Regions from separate parts of the Homo sapiens genome. Here all the other regions are linked to region 1. Evidence: fine-mapped expression QTL. A gene starts in region 1. Each other region holds a variant in brackets. All regions are shown on one strand. Distances are between the middles of the regions. Region 1 holds the start of HMGB1 (high mobility group box 1). Region 2 holds the start of UBE2L5 (ubiquitin conjugating enzyme E2 L5). Region 3 has its middle 16 kb from the start of UBE2L5.

Region 1 (2,754 bases):
CGAGGAGAGAGGACGCGGCCCGGCTCCCAGGCCCGAGGCCGCCACGTGCGCCCGGCAGGCCCTGCAGGCCCGCGCCGCCGCCGCCCCCATTTTGTCAGGCTCGGCGCAGGGAGAAGCCCCGCTCGAAATGGGGGCTGGCTCCGCCCGCGGCCGCCGGGGCCGGCGCGCACGGAATGGCCGCTGCGCGTCTTCTCCGCCTGCGCCGCCGCCGCCGCGAGGGCGAGCGCGAGCGAGAATATGGCTCCTTCCCTTTGTGTGTGTGTGTGTGTGTGTGTGTGTATGAGAGAGTGTGTGAGTGCGAGGGTGCGGGCGCGGCGGCGGCGGCGGGCGGGGTGCGAGCCGCGCTCTGGCGCACACACTCGGCCATTACGGCCGGGGGAGGGGCGGGGGGCGCGCGGCCGGGCCCTCCCCTCCGCGCCGCTCCCCTCCCCCCGCCGCGGTGGGGGCCGCCCGAGGGCCCACCCGCCCGCCACTCCCCGTCTCCCTCCGCGCGGGCCGCGCGCCCCGCCGCCCCCGCACGGAGAACGCGGGGCTGTGAAAAGAGAGAGGAAAAAAAAAGTTGCCTCGGAACTGCTGCGCCCAGCTCCCCCGCCCGCCCGCCTTGTTTTCTCTCCAGCCAGCAGCGCCGGGCCCGAGTCAGCCATGTTCCAGCGAGCGCAGCGGCGCCGCTCCCCCCGCCGCCCGGCCGCCGCCGCCGCCGCGACCGGGCCGAGGCCGGCCGGGCCCGCACTGCCGCCCCCAGGCCCCCGCGCCGCCCTCGCCCGCCGCGGCGCCCCGCCCGCCCCGCCGCCCGCCCGGCTGGCCGCGCTCCCCGCCAGCGCCCGGCTCGCTGCGGCGGCGGCCAATGCAGCCCGGGGAAGCGCCGCCGCTGCCCTCCCGCCGCCGCCGCCGAGCCGCGCCGGCCCCGCCGCCCCGGCCGCGCTCCGCGCACGCCGCCCGCCCGAACGCCCGGCCCGAGGGCCCAAAACACGTTCAAAATTTTTTTAATTAAAAAAAAAATTTTTTTTTTTGCGCCAGTCAGCGCGGACGCCGCCGGGGGTGGAAACTCGCGGGGCGCGGGGCTCCCGGCGCCTCAGGCTGCCTGAGGGCCGGGGCACCGGCGCGGGGCAGCGTTCCCGGCGCCCGGGCAGAGGCTCGCTCCGTGCGCAGTTCCCCCCACGGTCCCCCCTCATTTGCCTTTGTGTGGATCCTGACCCGCCGGCTCCCGGCCGCGGGGATCCGGCCGCCGCGCGGGCTGGGGAGCTGCCGGAGGCGCTCTCCCCGCCGCGGCGCTGCCCCAGACTCACCCTCAGCGAGGCACAGAGTCGCCCAGTGCCCGTCCGGCTCTCACTTGCCCCGGTGCTGTCTCTATGGAGCTCAATGTACTGCAATGGCTGTGAGAGCGGGAGCCAGACGCAGCCTCCTCACTCTCTCCGCTCTGTAACATTACTCTCCAGCCAGCGCGGCTCCTATTGGCTACCGCCAACTCACGGGGCTCGCTCATTGGCCCGATACCTCCCATTGTCCTGACCAGAGCCCGTTTGCTATTGGCTGTCTCCGGGGACACGTCATCAAGGATTGAAACAGCGCGCAAATCTGAATGTGTGTGTATGCCGGGCAAAGAGGCTGAGGCGGGAGAGGCAGAGGCAGAGGCAGCAGCTGCTACGGGAAAGCAGAGCTCTATGGTGTATGTGTGCATGTGTCTAACCCAAGCCAGCCCCACACCGGAGCGGCCGCCGGAGCGAAAAGGGCCTGACTTTTCCACAAGTGTCTCCAACTCCTCAGGCAAAAGAGACACCCACAGGTCTCCCCCCCCCTTCTTGCCCCACATTCACGCCCAAAGCCGTTGAGATAAGAGGCCCCAGGCTTTTAATGGCCCTTCAAAAGTGAGGGCGACACTATGGGATCATGTCCCCTGAAAACTGGGGTCTCTGCTGGTGCTGAGGGGCGGAAGCCGCCGAGCCTCGAGCCCCTCAAAGGTCTCTGATTGCGTTACACTTTAGGTCTCTGGAAAGGCAGGGCTTCTATAAGAAAGTGACATGATCCAGCCAGCCGGGTTTAAAATACCCCTTTTCTGGGCTCATAAGCCGTCACGTCAGGCTCGCTGAGCAGCTGAAATCTTGAGTCAGTGAGCAGGCATTCAGTTTCACCCTTTTTCTTGGTTTGATCGAGTTTCACAGCATGTCTAGAACTTTTTATTTAAATACAAAGCACTGTCTTAACTTCCTGGAAATCAAATAATTATTCCATGTAATTAAAGAACAGCCACTTGGTTTGATATGGGGTACTCTAGCAGGAAATGTTTGTGAGGCCCTGGTAGAATTAGCAAATTCATTAGAGACCACATTCTAAACTGTTTGGCTATTTTATTTGACTTGGTGTGGATTACTGTTACAATCAAACGAATCCTTGTGATGCTATCTTTCCCTCCCATCACACCACTTAGTGCATCCATGTAACTGCTCTAGGATTACAGGAGTTGTAGGTATATGGTTACCCGAAGGATTAGATGCAGGCAGAGAGTGCATGTGCCCAAATCCACAGGCTGTGGTTTCTCTAACTCACCAAGCTGGCTGGTATTAATAGACATACTTACGTCTGTAGAGAAAATGTGCTGGCTGTAGTGGCCAGTTCTGAAGACTCTACAGTTATATCAGTCCTTTATGAAACTACTATCTATTCCTTTTAGCCTGAGCAGACCACGCCCCTATTCAGTTATAACAGACTTCCCTTTTTTTTCACTCTCTAATGGTATTTTGTACACTTCTAAATCCA
Region 2 (2,754 bases), 45 kb before region 1:
GTGTTGTGTGGTATAGTAAGCCTTTTGGTGGCTTCAGTTCTTACCCTAAAAAAAAAGGAGAAGGGATAACACGAGGAGACCCTCCTAGAGCTCCTATGGGATATTTAATTATCAATATGGCAGCTACACTAGGTTTAGAAATAAATGAACTATCAGATAGCACCCTAAGGTATTATCCCACCACATGGGCTCTTAAACACCGATTTTCTCTGTACTCTATTGGAACATGTGTAGACATTTGATTTGAAAACCAGGCTTCCCACTGACTTCCTTAGCAGGCTGGGATGTCAAATCTTTCTCTCACTTTTGGGGGGGATTAGGGTGTCTTCTGGGTTCGTATGAGTGTGTGGATGTTAAGCGGTAGTAAAAATAGCAACTGAAGCAAAAAAAAACATCCTTAGTGGGATCTCAAAACCGTTTAAAAAGAAACTATCGGAGGGGCCTAACAGTATCAGGTGTTTCATAGTTGCTGGGGAGAAGCAGCAAAGGGACACACATTCACGCTAGACTAAGAATGTCCCATCATCATTACTCCTGCACACCCACATCCTTAGGCTCCAGGTTAGGCCCCTTATAAAATATTGTGTGGGCCAGGAATCCCACGAATTCCCAGAAGAATGGGAATTTGGGGAATTGTTTTTAATCCCGTTGGATAGTCCAGTAACTCTGCACATGGATACCAGTCTTGGGCACAGGGAATTTCCCTAAAGAGCCACAAGGAGACTTGGGTTAACCAGAGACAACAGCTCCTCAAGTACCCACTGTGGAGGAAGTAGAGGAATTCAGAAACTCGGGCTAATGAACCGCCTCAGTAACGTCCTGAGGGGTAAAGCTCTGCTGTGTCCATGGTGAAATGTGAGTGTGAGAGAACTGTGGGAACATACATATCCACCTGCTGCAAGCCTACCTGCCCATCTTCGAAACGCGGTGCCCCTTCACTCTGCCCCAAAGCTGAACCCTTTTGTATTACGCCTCCCAAATACGAAGTTGTCCCATAGCATGAGTTTTGGAGTCCAAGGTTTGAGTCCTCGGTCGGCTGCAAAGAGCTGTGTGGTCATGGCCAAGTCACTTAGCCCATCCAGGTCTCAGTCTCCCGTGTGTAAAATGGGAGTAAGGAGGGCTCAATTGTTCTAAGGATTAAATGCAACCAAGTTGGCAAAGTTTTAGCACAGTGCCCACGTGTTAGCTGTTTATGGTGTGCCTGTTGTATGCCAGGCCTGCGCTGGAGACGCAGGCATTATGCTCCCTGCACATGGCCCATACCCACATCTCCTCTACACGCGCCCTCGCTGAGGCGCGGGTCCTACTGAAGATCCGGATAGTGATCATCCTTTCTGGCAGCATAAGTCCCGCCCCCTTTCCTTCCCTGGG[C/T]TTCTGTTGTCCAGGCTACCTTGGCGTTATCAAAGCTACTTGATCTTTACAGCCACTTCCCTCTGCACAGGCATCCAAATAGGAAATTCCGCTCTCAAGGAACCTTCTACCCATCCACCTGCCACCAGCACGAACCTGCTGTCTTGTTCTCTGGCCTCTCTCCCTCAGTCCCCTTTTGCGCCCTCATTTTCCTGTCTAAAATGAAACGGACCGCTGCCCTTTTTATCTGTACTAAGTTTCAGGAGCAGAATCTTCGTTAAACTGAGCAGAGCAAGAGCGCGCTGCCCACAGGGCTGGGGCGGGCGCACGGGCCCTTATGTAAGGCCGGGCCTTCCCGGGGAAGAGCGAAGGCTCCGGGAAGGGAAGCACGGGCGGCGGGGCCCGGCCTCGAGGACCGCCCCCAGGGCGGGGAGTGGTGTGAGCCGCGGCGCCGCCAGCAAACTTTCCTCCTCCGAATTCTTGACCGAGAGCCTTGGAACCACATTCTGCCCAAATCTGTACACGCCGGAGCCAGGGAGCCGCCCGCCGCCCGGGGAGCGGAGTGGGGAAAGAGGGGGTGGAGAAGGGACCGGGGAGGAGGTGGGGGAGGGCGGAGGAGGTGGTAAGGAGAGGAGCGGGGGGGAGGAGGAGGAAGGGGAGGAGGGAGAGGTGGGGCGGGGAGGAGGGAGAGGTGGGGCGGGGAGGAGGGAGAGGTGGGTCGGGAAGGAGGGGGAAGTGGGAGACCGGGGATGTGGGAGGGGAGAGAAGGAGGAGGTGGGAGAGGGGAAAGCGGGGAAAGGGGAAGGTGGGGCGGGCGGAGGTGGGGGTAGAAAGTGGGGAAGAGCGGGGATGGCAAGTTCCGCGGGTGGCGAGCGGCCCCAGGGAGCGGCGGGGGGGCGAAGCAAGTTCCTTAGTTTCTCCCAAGCCAGCCCGGGAGCTGTTGGACGAGTGGGAGCGCCTGGCTACCTGCAAGTCTTCGGGTTTCGCGAGCGCCGCAGAGCTTTTCTGCAGCCGCTAAATAAATAAATAACTACGGACGCCCGCCCCGCCCCGCCCCGCCCCGCCCCTCCCAGCCCAGCCCAGCCCAGCCCAGCCCAGCCCAGCCCCGCCCAGCGCAGCTCCCTGGCCGCGGCGGCGGTGGTGGCAGCGGTGGTGGCGGCTGCGGCGCAGGCAGGGCTGGGCGCTTGGGGAGCTCCGCGCGCGGGGCACTTCCCCGTGACCGGCGGCCGCGCAGCTCAGGGAACTCCGCTCCGTGAGGCTTCCGGGAGAGGGAAAGCTGTTCTCCTTTGATGCTCTTTGGTTTTACAGTGGAAAACTACAATTAAAAAAACATAGCCGTGAAAATAAATGAGATTAGAACCTGCTGGCTTCACTTCCTGGAGGCTTTTTGTTGTGTCTTGAAAC
Region 3 (2,754 bases), 27 kb before region 1:
CAAGCTTACCAATCAACAGTTCGACAACCAGTGTGGTACGGACAAAACAGACTGAGCCGCGACAGAACAGCAGCCTGAGTGATGATAGCTGTGCTCAGAAGCCAGCCTAGCCAGAGCTGGCAATTCAGGCAATTCACAGGATAAATCAAAAGCCACAGTCTGGGAGCCTAGAATCAGCAGAGAGGTGTCTGATGTGGATATTGTCGGAAAGCGTGTGCATTGTACAGCCAGCGTATGTCAGAAGAAACATGGTTCTAGTACGTTGCTTTTCAAACTCTACAGGGTGTAGGCAGAGATCATTAAGCAAACAGATGTCAGAAAGGACAGAAAGCTCCTTACCTGGTTCAGCTACCACCTCTCTGTAAAGAAGAGTGCATAAAACCCACACAGATAACCCACCTCTACCCACCCATAGAACATCCTCACTCTAGGAGCATGAAAATACCTAGAGGTTTTCAAGTCTCTCGACGGCCGTGTGAAAATTAGCCTAAAATCACATGTGCACAGGCTAAAGATGCAAACCATTTTCTCAAATGAGCACCACATCTTTTCAATTGTTCTGGAATTGGTGACACTACCATCATCCTCTTGATTCCTGTGGAATCTTCTTGGACCCTGACCTTAATGTCCATTTTGCCTGCCCCATGGTGACCCAGCCCCAGTGAGTGTTTTACCTCCAATGGCCGGGAAACCACAGAACACGCTGCCTAAAGCACCATTTATTTTTTATTGTTTGAGACAGGGTGTCACTGTGTTGCCCAGGCTGGAGTGCAGTGGCACGATCTCAGTTCACTGCAGCCTTCACCTCAGGCTCAAAGGATTCTCCCACCTAAGCCTCCTGAGTAGCTGGGACTATAGGCACACCACCACGCCTGGCTAATGTTTTTTTTTTTTATGTTTTGTAGAGATGAGGTTTTGGCATGTTGCTCAGGATGGTCTTGAACTTGTGGGCTCAAGCGATCAATCTGCCTTGGCCTCCCAAAGTTCTGGGACTACAGACATGAGCCACAGCACCTGGCTTTTTTTTTTTTTTTTTTTTTTTTTTTTGAGACAGGGTCTTGCTCTGTTGCCCAGGCTAGAGTACAGTGGTATGAACTCAGCTCACTACAGCCTTGAGCTCCTGGTCTCAGGCAATCTTCCCACCTCTGCCTCCCGACTACAGGTGTGAGCCACCACACCTGGCTAACTTATCACAGATATGAGCCACTGCACCTGGCCAAGCACCATTTTTGTCACTGTCAGTTTCCTGCTTGAGAAATTACAGTGGCTTCTGCATTACTTTAATAATTGTGTCCTCCTTATGACCCTTTGTAGTCTCCAAAGGCTGGGCTCCTCTTCTGTTGCTGAGCTAATCTATTTATTCTCCCCGCCTGCGCTTGGCTCATTCCTGGGCCCAAGCCTTACCACTTGCTACTCTTCCTCTAAATTTGGATTTCTTCCCCTCTCTTGTCCTCAAACCCACTGTCACTTTTGAATTTGAAGACATGTTGCTTTGCACGCCGCTCCTCTTTGGGGTACATCTGTGAGCACCTGCATGGCTAAGAGGGAGTGCTCAGTGAGAACCCAGTGAATGATGAAGGTGTATGTGAATGACGATTGGATGGGAGAGGCTGCCCAAGTGGAAAAGCGGTATTTGCTTTTCAGTACAGGAAAATTTCC[G/A]TGATATTTTTCTGGCACACAATAAAGAAAATGCTATATTGAAGCAAATTAATATATTTTAACTTTGTGTAGATGCAGTGGGAATTACTTTTTAAATGGTGTATGGAAATAAAAGAACTGGTTGAAAAGAACAATTTTTCAAATGAATGTGTCTAATGTCTCCCAACAGATAAGGAAGGGAATAGAAATTTGTGAAGAGGATCACACACCATCACTTTTACACACTCACTATGTGATTTCGCAGTAGAATTAGAAAAGTCAAATTTCATAGTCCAAATGTAGAAAATAGTAGGAATTAGGGCTGGGTGTGGTGGCTCACACCTGTAATACCAGCAATTTGGAAGGCCAAGGTGGGCGGATTGCTTGAGTCTGGGAGTTAGAGACCAGGCTGGGCAACATGGTGAAACCCTGTCTCTACAAAAAATATATAAAGTAGCTAGGTGTGGTGGCTGGCACCTGTAGTCCCAGCTACTTGGGAGGCTGAGACAGGAGAATCGCTTGAGCCTGGGAGGTCAAGCCTGCAGTGGGTGGTAATGGTGCCACTGCACTCCAGCTTGGGTGATAAAGTGAGACCCTGTCTCAAAAAAAAAAGAAAAGAAAATAGTAGGAATGGCTAATTGATGAATAGGTTAGTTCAAAAGAGAGCTCCTAACTGCCCACTGGCCGTACCCCAATTAAAGTAACTTCCAGAAATAATTCTTCTTCAAAAATACATTATCTATGCAAAGGATTCTTTATTAATAACATACATCAGGGTTTGGCAAACTATCTGTGGGCCAAATCCAGCCCGCCTCCAGTTTGGGTAACTGTAAGTTGCTTAGAGTACAGCCAGGCTCGCTCTTTTTGGATTGCCGATGGCTGCTTCCAACTACTATGGTGGAGCTGAGCAGTTGTGATAGAGACCCTACAACTCACAACACTGAAGACCTAAGTTGCAGACTGAAAATGAACCTTACAGGAAAGGTTTGCTGACCCTTGACCTACATGATCTAAGGATATAGTGCGTAATTTGTCTGGAAGTGCCATTAACTTGCTTTCTCCAGTGGGAATGTAGCATGGTTGGGTACATTAATCCTGAAATAAGTGAGAGATCCA

What was found. PIP is the estimated chance that this variant, and not a neighbour inherited with it, causes the effect.
Region 2: its variant is fine-mapped to the expression of HMGB1 in whole blood (TOPMed, PIP 0.99).
Region 3: its variant is fine-mapped to the expression of HMGB1 in whole blood (TOPMed, PIP above 0.99).

The regions. Positions count from the first base shown.
Region 1 is chr13:30,464,510-30,467,263 of GRCh38, forward strand. HMGB1 (high mobility group box 1) reads right to left here and starts at 1,427. Exons shown (of 5, transcript NM_002128.7): 1 at 1,287-1,427. RefSeq lists silencers at 1-490, 1,090-1,399 and enhancers at 835-1,610, 1,611-2,386.
Region 2 is chr13:30,419,901-30,422,654 of GRCh38, forward strand. It overlaps UBE2L5 (ubiquitin conjugating enzyme E2 L5), which reads left to right and starts at 2,593. Exons shown (of 4, transcript NM_001355247.2): 1 at 2,593-2,754. LINC01058 (long intergenic non-protein coding RNA 1058) reads right to left here and starts at 2,344. Exons shown (of 2, transcript NR_125771.1): 1 at 2,317-2,344; 2 at 1-45. RefSeq lists silencers at 1,646-1,825, 2,266-2,555. The variant C/T (reference allele first, on the strand shown) is at 1,372.
Region 3 is chr13:30,437,267-30,440,020 of GRCh38, forward strand. No RefSeq gene overlaps it. Among named protein-coding and RNA genes, the nearest start is that of UBE2L5, 16 kb to the left of the region's middle. The variant G/A (reference allele first, on the strand shown) is at 1,660.